4 linked regions of the Homo sapiens genome follow. The protein of the gene in region 1 purifies or fractionates together with the protein of each later gene. This does not show direct contact. Each region holds a gene or a part of one and is shown on either strand. Other genes may lie near its edges.

Region 1 (3,913 bases):
ACATACCTGTAATCCCAGCTACTCAGGAGACTGAGGCAGGAGAATCACTTGAACCTGGGAGGCGAGGTTGAAGTGCGCCGAGATCACGCCATTGCACTCCAGCCTGGGTGACAGGGCGAGACTCCATCTCAAGGGAAAAAAAAAAAAAAAAAGTTAAAACAAAGCCTGGGAAAAAATATTTAACACAACATACTTCAGAAAGAAGAAAGCACCTCAACCGAAAATAATCTAACCTAAATGCCCATAAAGAGAGGGACTTATAGCTGGGTACAGTGGCTGACACCTGTAATCCCAGAACTTTGAGGCCAAGATAGGAGGATAACTTGAGCCAAAGGGTTCAAGAGCAGCCCTGACAACATAGCTAGATCCCGACTCTACAAAAAAAATTTTCTTAATTAGCTGGGCATTGTGGCAAGTGCCTGTAATCCCAGCTACTCAGGAGGCTCAGGTGAGATGATGGCTTGAGTCTGAGGGGTTGAGGCTGCAGTGAGCCGTGGTCACGCAACTGCACTCTAGCTTGGGCAACAGAGTGAGATCCTGTTTCAAAACAGAAAAGGAGGGAGACTTATTAAGTAAATTATGCAGCTGTAAAAAGAAATAAGGGGCCGGGCGCGGTGGCTCACGTCTGTAATCCCAGCACTTTGGGAGGCCGAGGCAGGTGGATGATGAGGTCAGGAGTTCGAGACCAGCCTAGCCAATATGGTGAAACCCCGTCTCTACTAAAAATATGAAAATTAGCTGGGCACGGTGGTGTGCGCCTGTAGTCCCAGCTGCTTGGGAGGCTGAGGCAGGAGAATTGCTTGAACCCGGGAGGCGGAGGTTGCAATGAGCTGAGATCCCGCCACTGCACTCGAACCTGAGCGACAGAACGAGACTCCATCTCTAAATAAATAAATAAATAAATAACCACTTCTTTATGTACAGATACTGGAAAGGTCTTTAAGATAAAACAAATGATAAAAGCAAACTGTAGAATAATGTGTTCAAAATGTTGCCACACATATAAAATGGGGGAGCTGGAAGAGAATAGATATGTGTGTGTGTGCATGTGTGTAATTACATACATGCTTATTTGCTTGCATATTTAAAAAATATCTCTGGAAGCATGTACAAAAATAGTATCAGCTAGGCACAGTGGCTCACGCCTATAATTCCTGCACTTTGGGAGGCTGAGGCAGGCAGACTGCTTGAGCCTAGGAGTTCAGGACCAGCCTGGATAACATGGCAAAATCCCAGCTCTGCAAAAAACATAAAAATTAGCCAGCCGTGGTGGTGCACACCTGTAGTCCCAGCAACTTGGGAGGCTGAGACAGGAAGACCGCTTGAGCCTGGGAGGCAGAGGTTGCAGTGAGTGGTGATTGAGCCATTGCACTCCAGCCTAGGCGACAGAGTGAGACCATGTCTCAAAAACAAAAATAAAAACAAACCCCCCCCCAAAAACTAGTATCATTGGCTGTTTGTGAGGGAACTAGGTGGCTGGGGTCTGGGGGTAGGAATGAGAATTTTAAACTATTTTCTTCTGTTTTTAAAATTTTCTAATAGTGTAAATATCTTATTAATCTAAAATTAGAATTTTAAAATCTATTATGTTTGAATTTTAGTAAATTTTTATTGCATTAATATGCAAAAATACATAAATAAGTTACACCTCAATGAATTTTCACAAAGTGAAAGTACCTCTGTAATCAGTACCCTAGACAAGAAACAGAACATTACCAGTACCCTAAAAAGATCTCCTTTCCCCAAATTAGTAACCACTATCCTGACTTATGAAACCATAGAGTTATTTTGCATGTTTTTGAAATTCATGAAAATGGAATGATAGATACATTCTCTTTTGTGTCCGTCTTCTTTCATTCATTAGGTTCATAAGATTCAACCAGGCATTATGTGGAATGGCAATTCTTTCCTTCTCATGTGCTACTAGTCCACTGTATGAATATGCCACAATTTATTTATCCTTTCTACTGTTGGTGGAAATTTGAGTTATTTCCAGTATGGGGCCGTTATGAATAGTAGTGCAACCAATGTTCTAGTATGTATCTTTTAGTGAACATATGTATGCATTTCTGTTGGGGGTGTACCTGGGAGCTGAACTACTGAGTTACACAGTATGAACAGGTTCACCTTTAATAGACACTCTCAAACAGTTTTGTAGAGTAGTTTCCAATTTAGACTTCCACCAGCAGTGTATGAGAGTTCTAATTGCTCTACATTCTTCCTAACACTTAGAAAACAGTATAGTCAGGTTTTCTTGTGGGTTTCTTTATTTTAGCCATTTTGGTAGTGGTAATGCAATGAGATTTTAACTAGCATTTTCTTTATATCTATTGAGCCTGAGCACCTTCCCATATGATTACTGGCTATTTGGATACTATCTTTTGTAATCTGCCTATTCAAGTATTTTGCTCATTTTAAAAACTGGGTTGTCTGCCTTTCTCTTATTGATTTGTAGAGGCTCTTTATATATTCTAAACATGATCCTTTGTACATGCTGCAAATATCTTCTCCCTCTCTGTACCTTCCCTTTTTACTTTATTTTTATTTTATTTTATTTTTTTGTGAGACAGGGTTGGCCGGGTGTGGTGGCTCATGCCTGTAATCCCAACACTTTGGGAGGCCGAGGTGGGTGCATCACCTGAGGTCAGGAGTTCAAGACCAGCCTGGCCAATATGGTGAAACCGCGCCTCTACTAAAAATACAAAAATTAGCTGGGCGTGGTGGCGGGTGCCTGTAGTCCCAGCTACTCCAGAGGCTGAGGCAGGAGAATCGCTTCAACCTGGGAGGCAGAGGTTGCAATGAGCTGAGATCACACCACTGCACTCTAGCCTGGGTGACAGAGCGAGACTCCGTCTATAAAAAAACAAAAAACAAAAAACAACAACAGGGTCTTACTCTGTTGCCCAGGCTGGAGTTCAGTGGCACAATCACAGCTTACTGCAGCCTCGACCTCCTAGGCTCAAGTGATCGTCACACCTCAACCTCCTGAGCAGCTAGGATTACAGGCATGTGCCATTATGCCCAGCTAATTTTTGCATTTTTTTATAGAGACAAGGTTTTTCCACGTTGCACAGGCTGGTCTCAAACTCCTGGGTTCAAGTGATCCGCCAGCCTTGGCCTCCCAAAGTATTAGGATTATAGGCATAAGCCACAGCTTCCAGCCCCCTTTTAACTTTATAATGGTATATTTTGATGAGAAGCTATTTTTTATTTTTATTTATTTTCTCTTTTTCATTTAACTTGTCACTGACAAAACTGAGTTTTTTTTTTTTTTTAAGGACAGGGTCTCACTATATTGCCCAGGTTGGAGTGCAGTGACACAACGGTAGCTCACTGCAGCCTGGAACTCCGGGTCTCAAGTGATCCTCCCGCCTCAGCCTCCCAAGTATCTGGGACTACAGTGCACATTATCATGCCTGGCTCATTTTTAAAATTTTTCATAGAGATGGAGTCTCACTCTGTTGCCCAGGCAGGTCTCAAACTCCTGACCTCAAGCGATCCTTCCACCTCAGCCTCCCGAAGTGCTGGGATTATAGAAGTGAGTTACCACACCAGGCCTGAAGTTGAAATTAAGTTCTTATTTTTAATGTAGTCCAATGTATTCATTTTTTATGGTTATAGGGATTTTTGTGTCCTGTTTAAGAAATCTTTGCCTACCTTAAGATCATGGAGACATCCTTGTATTTTACCTTCTAGCAGTTTTATTATTTTAATATTTACATTTAGATCTACAATCCATCTTTAAGTCATTTCTGTGTGTGGCGTGAAATAGGGTCAAGAGTCATTTTTTGTTTTCACATGATCATCCAGCCGAAATGACCCAGCCACACTACTTTACAGTGCCACCTATGTCATATAACAAGCACCCAGAGATATGTGCATTTGTTTCTCTACTCTTCTGTTCCATTGGGCT
Region 2 (3,913 bases), on another chromosome or scaffold:
AGTTTATAGATGAGAGACGTGAGGCTCACAGATTTAACTAGATTGCCCATGGTCACACAGCTAGTAAGTGGTGGAGTTGAGGTTTCAGGCCAGATATCACTGACTTCAAAGCCCATGTATGCTCTCTCTACTAGCTACTATGCTTTGCTTAGCTACCATCTATTAAGACTTTATTATATTCATTGTATTAATTTTGCAACTTTTCAGTCAGTTTAAAAATTTGCAAAATAAAAAATTACAGGGACAAAAAAGACCATTATTATACAGGTATCTTAATGTATTATGAGCCAAGTTTCTCTAGTGTATATATCTAGGAGTAGAATTGCCGAGTCATAAGGTATGTATACGTATCTTCAATTGTAGTACTTCAATATAGTGAACTATTCCTAAGTATGTAACATTATACACTTTCTACCAAGTTCCTGTTGTTCCATATCCTCATCAACACTTGGTATTAGCAGTCTTTTTATTTTTAGCTAATCTGATGGAAATGAGGTAGAATCTCATTATGGTTTAACTCTCTTTGATTATTAAAGAAGTTGGGAACTCTTTTTATGATTACTACCTATTTTTACCTCCTATTCTATGAAGAGCCTATTTAAATTATTTTGCCTGTTTTTCTCAGATTGGATTGTCTTGTATTGATTTCAGAATCTGTACATATTCTAGATGCTAATATTTTGTCAATTACATGTAGGGCATATATTGTCTTATTGTATGGCTGTCTTCTATTTATATTATCTTTTGACAAAGATAAGTACTTAATTTTATGAATCAGATATATAACTTCTGATAACAGATTATTGTATCATAGAAGAAATCTTTCAATACCCTGCAGTTATGAAGGTGCACGTGTGTGTGTGTGTGTGTGTGTGCATATATGGATACATACATATAGCTAGACACACACACACACACATATGCATATACAAAATGTGTGTGTGTGTGCACTTTGAAGTTTTATCTTTACTCTTCACATTTAGGTCTGTATCCATCTGGAGTTTTTTTGCATATGGTGTGAGGTAAGCATCTAATTTCTTCTTTTTTTCCTATATGAATATCTGATTATTCTAGCACCATTTATTGAAAAGACTGTCTCTTCCCACTGCTTTGAAATTCCATCGCCATCATAAATCAAGGATCCCTCTATGAAGAATCTGGTAAGGGTCTGGTCTTTCAATTCTGACTCATTAGTCTATCTGTCTGTCACTGTGTCAGTATAACATTGATTTTTAAAAATATGTCTTGGAACCTGCTAAAGTGAGGCTTTCAACCTTCTTTTTCTTCAAGAGTACTTTATCCATCCTTGGCCCTTTATACGTATCAATATATTTTAGAATCATCTTGTCAAGTCTCAAGAGAAAAAAAAACCCTGTTCATTTTTTGCTGCTTCTTTTTAGATCAGATTAGAAGCTGCAATTGCTGGTTGGGGTTGCTGACTGAGATCACACTGCATCTATAGATTGTTTCGGGGAGAACTGACATCTTTATAATATTGAGTCCTCCAATCCAGGAAGCCACAAGCCATGTTAAGTCTTTTTTATACCTAATGCTAGCTCCTGAGAGCTAATCTACTTTTGATATGTGAGTGCCAAGGTTACTTAAATTTGGCACTTCCTTTTCCCCAAGTATTCCAAATCCTACAAATATAGTCTATTTTCCTCTCAACTCCTAAGATGATAGCCCTAAAATAGAATGCTACATCATAGTTCCATGGTCCAGAATTGTGCTTGATCCAGGAACTGAGGAGGAAACCCAAATGATCTGTGGCTCTGAGGATATGAAAAATATCTTTCAGGTAATTGAGAACAAATATAATCTTACACTCAAAATCACAAACACACACATAAAAGGCTTTCAAGTGATGAAATCCCCAAATCATAATCTAGAAACAATATTTTTAAAATAATTCCTACTTGAGAATTGAGAGAGAGAGAGAAGTTAGCATAGAATGAGTACCTATTAGCGAGGCTTCCTCCAGGACCTAGGAACCCTAACCAGCTCTGGATTCCTGATATGGGAATAAGCAAAGGAATTTTCAGTGCAGTAAGAAATGATTAATGGGCTTTAGGGACTGATTGATGAAGAGAGAAAGCAAAGCAGAAAAACAAACTCTGAAGTTAATAAATGGAAAGGAAAAAAATACCATCCTGAAATACTTGACCTAGGAAGATAAGGGACTGTTTATGGTAATGTAAAGGGTTATAAAGACCAGGAATTTTAAGTTGAAAATAATAGGAATATTTTCACATATATTCCTCCATCTTCAAACTCAGAAATTATTCCCCAGGAGAAATGGAGAAAACAAATTCTTGAGAAAACTAGAAGAGAAAAGCACCAGAGAAGAGACTGTGGGAAAAAAGTATTGTGACCAGTGGGAATGGGCTAGAAATGATCTAATACATCTTTTCCATTCTCTAGTTCCTGGGATTCTATACATTAGTGCAGAGGGAATGATATTATCAAGCAATGAGACCAACGAGAAGTGTTTTGTTCAATTTTCAAGGCGCTGTTAAAAAAATACAGCCTCTAAATGGGAACTGGATACCTGGTCTTAAAAATATACAGAGAGCATCCTGCTCTTCTGCAGTGAGTTTATGTTCCCGTCTGTTCCCTCTGCAGGAGTCAGCAGGCGGCCTGACGGCATGGCAGGGGAGACATGCCAGGTACCATGAAATCATGGGGTTGGAATGTGGAGTTTGGGTGGTGGGAGGATGGGGGTTCTGTGTTCAAAAGCACTAGAGTTAGAAAAGAATGAAAACGAAAGGAGCTTGGGCTTCCCATGGGTTTGGACAAGAGACAAACCACAAAGAAAACAGCTTCTAGCCTAGCCCACAGGCATTCATTCAAGGGGAAGCCTGGAGCATCAACCTACAATTCCATCACAGTATGCAGAGGATTAAAAAAGAAGCATGTTAGAAAGTAGGTCTTCATTTCATTTCAGGCATATTTCCCTGGTAAATGCCACTTCCAGCCTATACATTTATTGGCTCATTTTTATAACAGAACCAGCAGTACCAAATCCCTGGGGAGCTTCAGCTCTAGGATTTGACATATACTAGAAGAGAGGGTGGGTATTCAAATCAAAGGTAGAGCATACTTATCATTTTGACAGACATAGCTGAAACTATTCCTGTTGTAAGGTACTGAGCACATCCAAAATGTGTAATTTCCTTAATTTTCTTACTGTACTCAAAAGCAATTGAAAATTCCCAAGTTATTAATTATGGCAAAAGAATTTTTGTGATTAGGAGAGCTTCTGTCTTTAATTTCAAGTGAATAAGATCCATCAAAAGAAGGCTGCCTACTAGCTTTGAAACACTTTCAGCTTCAGTACAGTGGTGAGAAACAGACTTCAACTAAAGATTTCAAGACTCTTCTTACAAAGTCCTGCTTGTATCCAGCTGTAACAGCAATTGTTCATTCATCACACTTGTTTTAACTACAGTCAAAGGTAAACCACAAACTTGGCTCAATGGCCACACTATGTCTTATTGGTTACATAAATGGCATTTTATCACAGATTGTAATAAAAAAGTATTCAATAACATTACCAGGTAATTGGGATGAAAATCTCTTTCTATAAGTCTATTTATTCTTCTCATTGTATATAAATTTTAAAATATTGTTTAAAGCTGTCACTCCTTAGCTCTGTTAGTGTTTCTCAATTCTATCATCTACATTGCCCTACTATTTCAATCCTACATTCCTGAAATTATCTTCAACATTTTCTTGAAAATGCCTCTATTGGCAATTAAGGATTGAAGAGCTGAAACAGAGAAGACCCGGCGTGACACTGGTGCTCCTCTGAAGGTTTGGCCATGCCTCAGCATTGTTCTGCTACAGTCAGCTCTTTCCTCCGGAAAGCACTGGAGAGTCCAGGTCTGTTAAGAAATGCTCACTCAGCACCAAG
Region 3 (3,913 bases), on another chromosome or scaffold:
GGTGAAGTGGCTCACACCTGGAATCCCAGCACTTTGGGAGGCTGAGGTGGGCAGATCACTTGAGGTCAGGAGTTCGAGACCAGTTTGGCCAACATGGTAACCCCCTGTCTCTACTAAAAATATAAGTCGTGGTGGGTGCCTGTAATCCCAGCTACTCAGGAGGGTGAGGCGGGAGAATCATTTGAACTGAGGAGGAGAAGGTTGCAGTGAGCAGAGATCGCGCCACTGCACTCCAGCCTGGGTGACAGAGCAAGATTCCATCTCAAAAAAAAGAAAAAAATAATTGTTTTTTGTAGAGCAGGTGTCTCACTATATTGCCCAGGCTGGTCTCTAACTCACGGCCTCAAGTAATCCTTCTGCCTTTGCCTCCCACTGTGTTGGGATTACAGGCCTGAGCCACTACACTTGACAGAGGTAAGGCTTCTTCTATTGTCTTCATAAAATACGCAGCATAGTACCCTGGGGCTATGAAATCCACAAAAGCTGACTCAGCATGGACTTTCCAAAGAGGAGAAGAATGAACTAATATGAAACTGAGGCAAAGCAAAGCAAACTAAACAAAAAACGTGCTGACCCAGGACCCCGACATGAGAATTTTCTTAGCCTGGACCTACTTCCTGTATATGGAAATTTCCTGGGTGTTTTGGAATTTAAAAATGATTATGTACTCTAAACCTCTAGTGCCAGTCCTCTGAAGCTGTTTTTTGAAGATCATTAGGTCAGAGAAACCTGATTGCTTGAGAAAGTTGCACTGGTTATCATCTTTTTTTTTTTTTAGATGGAGTCTTGCTCTGTCGCCCAGGCTGGAGTGCAGTGGCACGATCTCGGCTTACTGCAACCTCTGCCTCCCGGGTTCAAGTGATTCTCCTGCCTCAGCCTCCTGAGTAGCTGGGATTATAGACGCCCGCCACCACACCTGGCTAATTTTTGTATTTTTAGTAGAGACGGGGTTTTACCACGTTGGTCAGGCTGGTCTCGAACTCTGACCTTGTGATCTGCCCGCCTCGGCCTCTGAATGCCTGGCCTCACCTTTTTTTTTTTTTTTTTTAATGGAAAGGGAGTCTATGTTTCCCAGGCTGGTCTTAAACTCCTAGCCTCAAGCTAGCCTACCACCTAGACCTCCCAAAGTACTGGGATCACAGGCGTGAGCCACTGCGCCCAGTCGGTTATCACTTTCATAAGACTAGAAAAGACAGTAAGACTCTCCTTCTCCTGTAAATCTTAGAAAGAGTGTAAGGGAACCCAAAGATGTGTCTTAAGCAAATACTCCTAGAGTTCCCCAAGAGACTGGATATTATCAATACATTTATGTATACCTGGCATCCAACTAGAGCAGTTTGCTTTTACAAGAAATGGCATAAAAATTAAAAAAATAAATCCAATGAACTTTCTCTCAAAAAGGCTCCCTGGGAATTCTCTTACAAGATGGGAATTAAAAAAAAAATAAGAAAAACAAGATGGGAATAAAAAGGAGTAGCAATTGATACAATTCTGCTTTATTTTTTTTAGTCCAGATGGGTCACACCTTATGTTCTTGGTTCTGAAAGAGTCCTACAGGGAAAGGTTACTGAAAAGCATCTACCTTTCCTGTGTTGCCAGGACTTAATGGGGAAGGCTGCTGTTTAACTGCCGCAGAATGTTCCCTGAACAGCAGGACTCAGCCGAACTATCATAATATCCATCAGCATTTGCAACGCTAAATAAGATTAGCTGAATCAAAACAGATGTCTTAAAAGACTTGAAATGCTTGAAATGTACAGCTGAACAGATAAAAAGCCATGGGCCGGTATCAATACTGGCTTTTCCTTTTTTTTTAAGGTTTTCTTAGAAAAAAGCTCAGTGTCCTCACAGAATCAAGCTACTCTCTGCTTTTGTTTTATCCCAGGTGTTCCAAGCCAAGTCAGTGCCTGAGAGAGCAGATCTGGAGTCTGGAGTCTGACAGCTTTGGCTGACTCCCGGCTCTCAAGTCACTCTCTATGTGTCCTTGTGGAAGTCCATTACCCTCTCTGGGCCTCACCTTTAAATTGAAGGTAGATAATAAGCACAGTCATCTACCTCATGTCCAGTGCACAGAACAGAGCCGGGCACACAGTCTGGCTCCACGGACATCAGGCCAGTCGGTCTTCACTGCACCCTGTGCAATTTTTGCTATACCTGAGAACCACCTGAATCAACTTTCTTTAAAGTATCTCTTGGGTTTTCTTTAACTTGTTTTGCTTAAATTCACATTAAAAAACCACTTATATCCCTATTATACCATCATTAGTAATTATATTTTTCTTTTTTTTTTTTTTGAGACTGTCTCGCTCTATTGCCCAGGCTGGAGTGCAGTGGCGTGATCTTGGCTCACTGCAAACTCCACCTCCCGGGTTCCTGCCTCAGCCTCCCGAGTAGCCAGGATTACAGGCGTCCGCTATCACGCCCGGCTAATTTTTGTATTTTTAGTAGAGACAAGGTTTCACCATGTTGGCCAGGTTGATCTCGAACTCCTGACGCCAGCTGATCCACCCGCCTCGGCCTCCCAAAGTGCTGGGATTACAGGTGTGAGCCACCGCACCCGGCAGTAATTATATTTTTCTAATACAGAAAATGAATACATTGCTATTCATGTAGAAAATGTTAGTCTGCACACTGCCTCAAATGGGCTCATGTGGCACCAGCAGCACAAGTAACCACATGCTGAGGGAGACACTGTACCAGCCAATCCAGAACACAGCTACCAAGGACATGTCATGCTGGGAGCTGAGGGAGACTCACACATCTCCCCTGCTGGACAAGCATAAGTGCCAGACAGAAACTCTCCACTGCTCCCTTAATAAAAGAGCTCAGCAGCATGGAAGGTGCCAGCCAGCAGGTCCTAGCTAGGCCTTGAAGCGTGGAGCAGCTCACAGGGACCGCCAGATGCAGTAACCACAGGATAGAATGCTCCTGAAGGAAAGTAAACTCAGAAACCAGAACTTGCACCATGGTTAGAATTTTGGATGCATTTACCCAAGAAAAGGAATTAGGTTGCACAGCAAGTTCACCCAGCAGAGAGCTGCAGCTGTTTTCCAGATGTCTCTATCAGCTTTGGCCAGCCCAAGCCTCTTTGGAAGACCACAAGTATCTGGAGCCCAACAGGAATGAAATGCTCACCTTCTCTGCATGATCTTCGGAAGGTCAAAGTAGAGTCAACTTCATTCTTAATCTTGATTAAAGCATCCAATACCATGGGGCCACATCTAACAAAGAAAAATATCCAGTGGTATTTATGTAACGTTCAACCTCCCTACACTTTATCATAATATAATCGGAGACACCTGGATGTATTAGCTTATCCATTTGGTCTTCTCAGGTCACCTTCGGAATTTGTTCTGTAGTTTTGTTTTTGCAGATTCTTACATTTTAAGTACTGCACAGTTCTATTTTGATGATCACAGTGCAAACACATTTCTAGGAAATGGAAAGCTAAAGTAGTAGTAGACAAGTATGACACAACTTCCATACAGTGGCCGAGTTTTTGTTTTTTACTTCTGAAGCTCCCTGCAAAGTTTTTCCAAATAATTTATTTCAAATTTTAGTTTGATTTTTAGGATGTAGACAATAGTTTTAAATAGTAATTAATAATACATAACCATAAGAGAAGACATAGTACAGAGAATAAAAGACACCCAATCACTCACAGTCCCCCAGTCAAATCACTGTGAGCCTCCTAGAACATACAAGGGCAGTGACATGGTACTAAGCGGAGCATCCCTGGGCGTGGGACCTGGAGTGCCGGCCTGGCAGCCAAGAGACTGGTCTGCACCATGGCTGAGCCACTTACCAGCTTGCAGGCAAATGATTTAATTTCTGCCTAGGCATTTAATCCACTGAGTGCAGAGAGCAGCACCTGCATCCCACAGGATTGCTGGAGGTGAGTTAATACACACGA
Region 4 (3,913 bases), on another chromosome or scaffold:
TGGCAGTAGAGACCAAAATACAGGTTGATTTATACTCTATAAAAAGAGAAATACGAAATGCTCATAAATAGATGAATCCAAAATGTATAATCCTAAGTATGATATAATCACATTATGGAATTTACCTGCAAGCTGGCAAGACCATAAAAACATTTGTTAAAGCACACTATTGATTTTCCCTCAAATTAGAATTCAAAGAAAAAAGTTACAAACTTCTACCAGCCATTTGTCCAAAGTAGACAGAAATGATTAATTATTGAGTATAACGTCCTTAAAATATATTAAGCAATATATAGTTAGAGCCTTAATATGACAGCAACTTTCTCTTTCAACAAAGTTATGGTGATATTCATTATGTGTTGAGACTGGGGTAAAAGATGGCTAGGTGTGGTGGCTCATGCCTGTAATCCCAGCACTTTGGGAGGTCAAGGCGGGCAGATCACTTGAGGTCAGGAGTTCAAGACCAGCCTGGCCAACATGGCAAAATTCCGTCTCTACTAAAAATGCAAAAATTAGCTGGGCATGGTGGCATGCGCCTGTAATCCCACCACTGGGGAGGCTGAGGCAGAAAAATCGCTCGAACCCGGGAGGTAGAGATTGCAGTGAGCTGAGATCAGTCCACTGCACTCCAGCCTGGGCAACAGAGACTCCATCTCAAAAAAATAAAAAAATAAAGAAAGGTAAAGAAGTCAGTCAAGTATTAGGTACTGGCTACTGGCACCTGTAACTTCATGCTATTTACAAAAACAGGTGACAAAGACAGTACTTACTACCTTTTAAGATTTTTGGCATGGCAGTTTCCTGAATATACAGAGGGGCTCCAAAAATATTCCAATGTTAGGAAGGGTGCGGTGGCTCACACCTGTAATCTCAGCACTTTGGGAGGCCGAGGCGGGCAGATCACCTGAGGTCAGGAGTTTGAGACCAGCCTGGCCAACATGGTGAAACCCTGTCTCTACTAAAAATACAAAAATCAGCTCAGTGTGGTGGCAGGTGCCTGTAATCCCAGCTACTTGGGAGGCTGGGGCAGGAGAATCACTTGAACCTGGGAGGCGGAGGCTGCACTTGAGCTGAGATCACACCACTGCACTCCAGCCTGGGCGACAGAACGAGACTCCATCTCAAAAAAAAAAATCCAATTCCTGACGTACCATTTACGGAAACAACAGTTCTGTTCCTTCTTACCTGTCGGACCTTGTGAATTCTTGTAACAAGTTCATCTGCAGAAACACTTCCTGCTATTACTTCCAAGGGAATTCCACTGTCTCCAATAAAGAAACTGGATGGAACACACACTACAGGATCTGTACAGTTTAATGAAGTCTAACAATTCATGTGAAACGAAAGGATAGTTTTACGAAACACTATTGGTAACAAAGGAAAACAAATGATCTTTGTGATTTTCACAATATAATCTAACATTTATTAAATAATTTCAAGTACTGCATCATTATACCTGTAGTATTAATACATGTGACATGTTAATTTATGAGGTATATTCTAGTGAAGAATCTACTACATTCTCCTCTATCATAACTTCCTTTTCTATCCATCTTGCTGCCAGCTGCCTCTTGCAAGCTACTTGTAACATTCCAACCCAACTGATCTATATTGTTTTTCAGATATTCACATTTTAAAAACTCCCTATCCTATCTTTAGCTGCAATATATTATCTCAATGTATGGGGTGCACTACACCATTGAGTTACTTTTATATATGTTTGAAATTTCCTATAATAACATTTTTTTTAAATGAGGACACTTAGTAATAAAGTTTCCATAAAAAAGAATGTATGATTTCCTAAATAAAAATGAATAATTTCTAAATTTCATAAATTAACCAAAAGGAAGGTAAATAAATGTATATATATAAGCCATTCTTTACTGAAAGGATACAGATTTGTGAAAACTGTAGGCAGGCTTCACTGTAAAACAAAATCAAACAAAATCACTAGATGAATGCAAGTATTTTCTAAATACTGAGTTGTTTTAATAAAATTTACTGTACCAATCACAAGTATTTTCCTGCAACTACCAGTTTCTTTCACAGCAATCAGGTTGAAGGAGAAAAATATAATTCTTATTTCATTAAGACTTTTTCTGGTTTGTTTTATAATTTTCAAATGAAAGAATTATTTGTGGCTTGGCATGGTGGCTCATGCCTGTAATCCCAGCATTTTGGGAGGCCGAGGCAGGCAGATCACTTGAGATCAAGAGTTCGAGACCAGCCTGGCCAACATGGCGAAACCCCGTCTCTACTAAAAATACAAAAATTAGCTGGGCATTGTGGCAAGTGCCTGTAATCCCAGCTACTTGGGAGGCTGAGGCAGGAGAATCGCTTGAACCCAGGAGGTGGAAGTTTCAGTGAGCCAAGATTGCACCATTGCACTCCAGCCTGGGCAACAAGAGCAAAACTCTGTCTCAAAAAAAAAAAAAAAAAAAAAAAGGCCGGGCGTGGTAGCTCACAGGTATAATCCAAGCACTTTGGGAGGCCAAGGCGGGTGAATCACAAAGTCAGTAGTTGAGACCAGCCTGGCCAACATGGTGAAATCTGGTCTCTACTAAAAATGCAAAAATTAGCTCGGCGTGGTGGCACACACCTGTAATCCCGGCTACTCAGGAGGCTGAGGCAAGAGAATCGCTTGAACCTGGTAGGCAGAGGTTGCAGTGAGCCAAGATCGCGCCACTGCACTCCAGCCTGGGCAACAGAGTGAGACTTCATCTCAAAAGAGAAAGAACTATTTGCTCTTACAACCCACAAGCTAGTGGCTGCATCTGGTAGCTAAAAAATTAATTTGGTATCTGCCATGCTGCTTCCTCAGCAGACAAGTATACCTGAATACAATATCTTAACCTGGAACACGAAGACATAAGGCCTACGACTTACTTAGGCATGTGATAATGTAATACTCTATAATAACAAAGGATTAAAAGCAATCTATATACCAATAAAAACTGAATAATTATGCAATCACAAAAAAAGGCAGGCCAGCACTGTGGATCACATCTGTAATCCCAGCAATTTGGGAGGTCAAGGCAGGTGGACACGAGGTCAGGAGTTCGTGACCAGCCTGGCCAACATGGCGAAACCCTGTCTCTACTAAAAATACAAAAATTGGCCTGGCGTGGTGGCTCACGCCTGTAATCCCAGCACTTTGGGAGGCCGAGGCAAGTGGATTATGAGGTCAGGAGTTCGAGTCCAGTCTGGCCAACATAGTGAAACTCCCTCTCTACTGAAAATACAAAAAATTAGCTGGGTGTGGTGGTGTGCACCTGTAATCCCAGCTACTCGGGAGGCTGACACAGGAGAACTGCATGAACCCAGGAGGCGGAGGTTGCAGTGAGCCGAGATCATGCCATTGCACTCCAGCTCAGGGTACAATGTGAGACTCTGTCTCAAAAAAAAGAAAAGAAAAAGGTATAGAAAAGTATGTCAAAATGCTATTAATACTATTTTTGTAAAACATGGAAGGAAAACAAACATAAATATATTTTCTTGATTTGGTTCCCTCCAGAGAAGGGAGCTGAGTGGTCAGGGATGGGAGAGAGAATTTATAAGATTAGTAAGAGATACTCATCAATGTAGATGCTTCCAATAATCAAACAAATGCTTCTAAGAACTAGAATTTGCTTTTTTCCCTCAAATATAAAGCATTATTATCATAAAAACATTTAAAAACATAGTAAAAAATCAAGAAAAAAAATTACCCAAAATCCTACCATTTCAGAAATAATTGTAAACTTTTTACGCATTTCCTACTAATCTATTTTCAATGCACGCTATCTCCAAAAATACATACACACTAAAATGATCCCAAAACATTGGGTGACTTAGTTATTATGAAATGAAGAAAATTTATTTTCCATAATTTAAAGGCACACTAGATTCTATCAGCATGCAGTCTACAGTGAAA

The links.
Region 2: the proteins of MRPL48 (region 1) and WARS2 fractionate together in Homo sapiens (co-fractionation; one large-scale study listed by BioGRID). This does not show direct contact.
Region 3: the proteins of MRPL48 (region 1) and SDHB fractionate together in Homo sapiens (co-fractionation; one large-scale study listed by BioGRID). This does not show direct contact.
Region 4: the proteins of MRPL48 (region 1) and UBXN4 fractionate together in Homo sapiens (co-fractionation; one large-scale study listed by BioGRID). This does not show direct contact.

The regions. Positions count from the first base shown.
Region 1 is NC_000011.10:73,839,461-73,843,373, reverse strand, and holds part of MRPL48 (large ribosomal subunit protein mL48), read right to left. Parts: intron 48-3,913; exon of another isoform or gene 7-47; intron 1-6.
Region 2 is NC_000001.11:119,078,046-119,081,958, forward strand, and holds part of WARS2 (tryptophan--tRNA ligase, mitochondrial isoform 1 precursor), read right to left. Parts: intron 1-3,913. UniProt on the Homo sapiens protein: Catalyzes the attachment of tryptophan to tRNA(Trp) in a two-step reaction: tryptophan is first activated by ATP to form Trp-AMP and then transferred to the acceptor end of tRNA(Trp).
Region 3 is NC_000001.11:17,029,925-17,033,837, forward strand, and holds part of SDHB (succinate dehydrogenase [ubiquinone] iron-sulfur subunit, mitochondrial isoform 1 precursor), read right to left. Parts: intron 3,222-3,913; coding exon 3,136-3,221; intron 1-3,135. UniProt on the Homo sapiens protein: Iron-sulfur protein (IP) subunit of the succinate dehydrogenase complex (mitochondrial respiratory chain complex II), responsible for transferring electrons from succinate to ubiquinone (coenzyme Q).
Region 4 is NC_000002.12:135,751,550-135,755,462, reverse strand, and holds part of UBXN4 (UBX domain-containing protein 4), read right to left. Parts: intron 1,925-3,913; coding exon 1,896-1,924; intron 1,305-1,895; coding exon 1,186-1,304; intron 1-1,185. UniProt on the Homo sapiens protein: Involved in endoplasmic reticulum-associated protein degradation (ERAD). Acts as a platform to recruit both UBQLN1 and VCP to the ER during ERAD.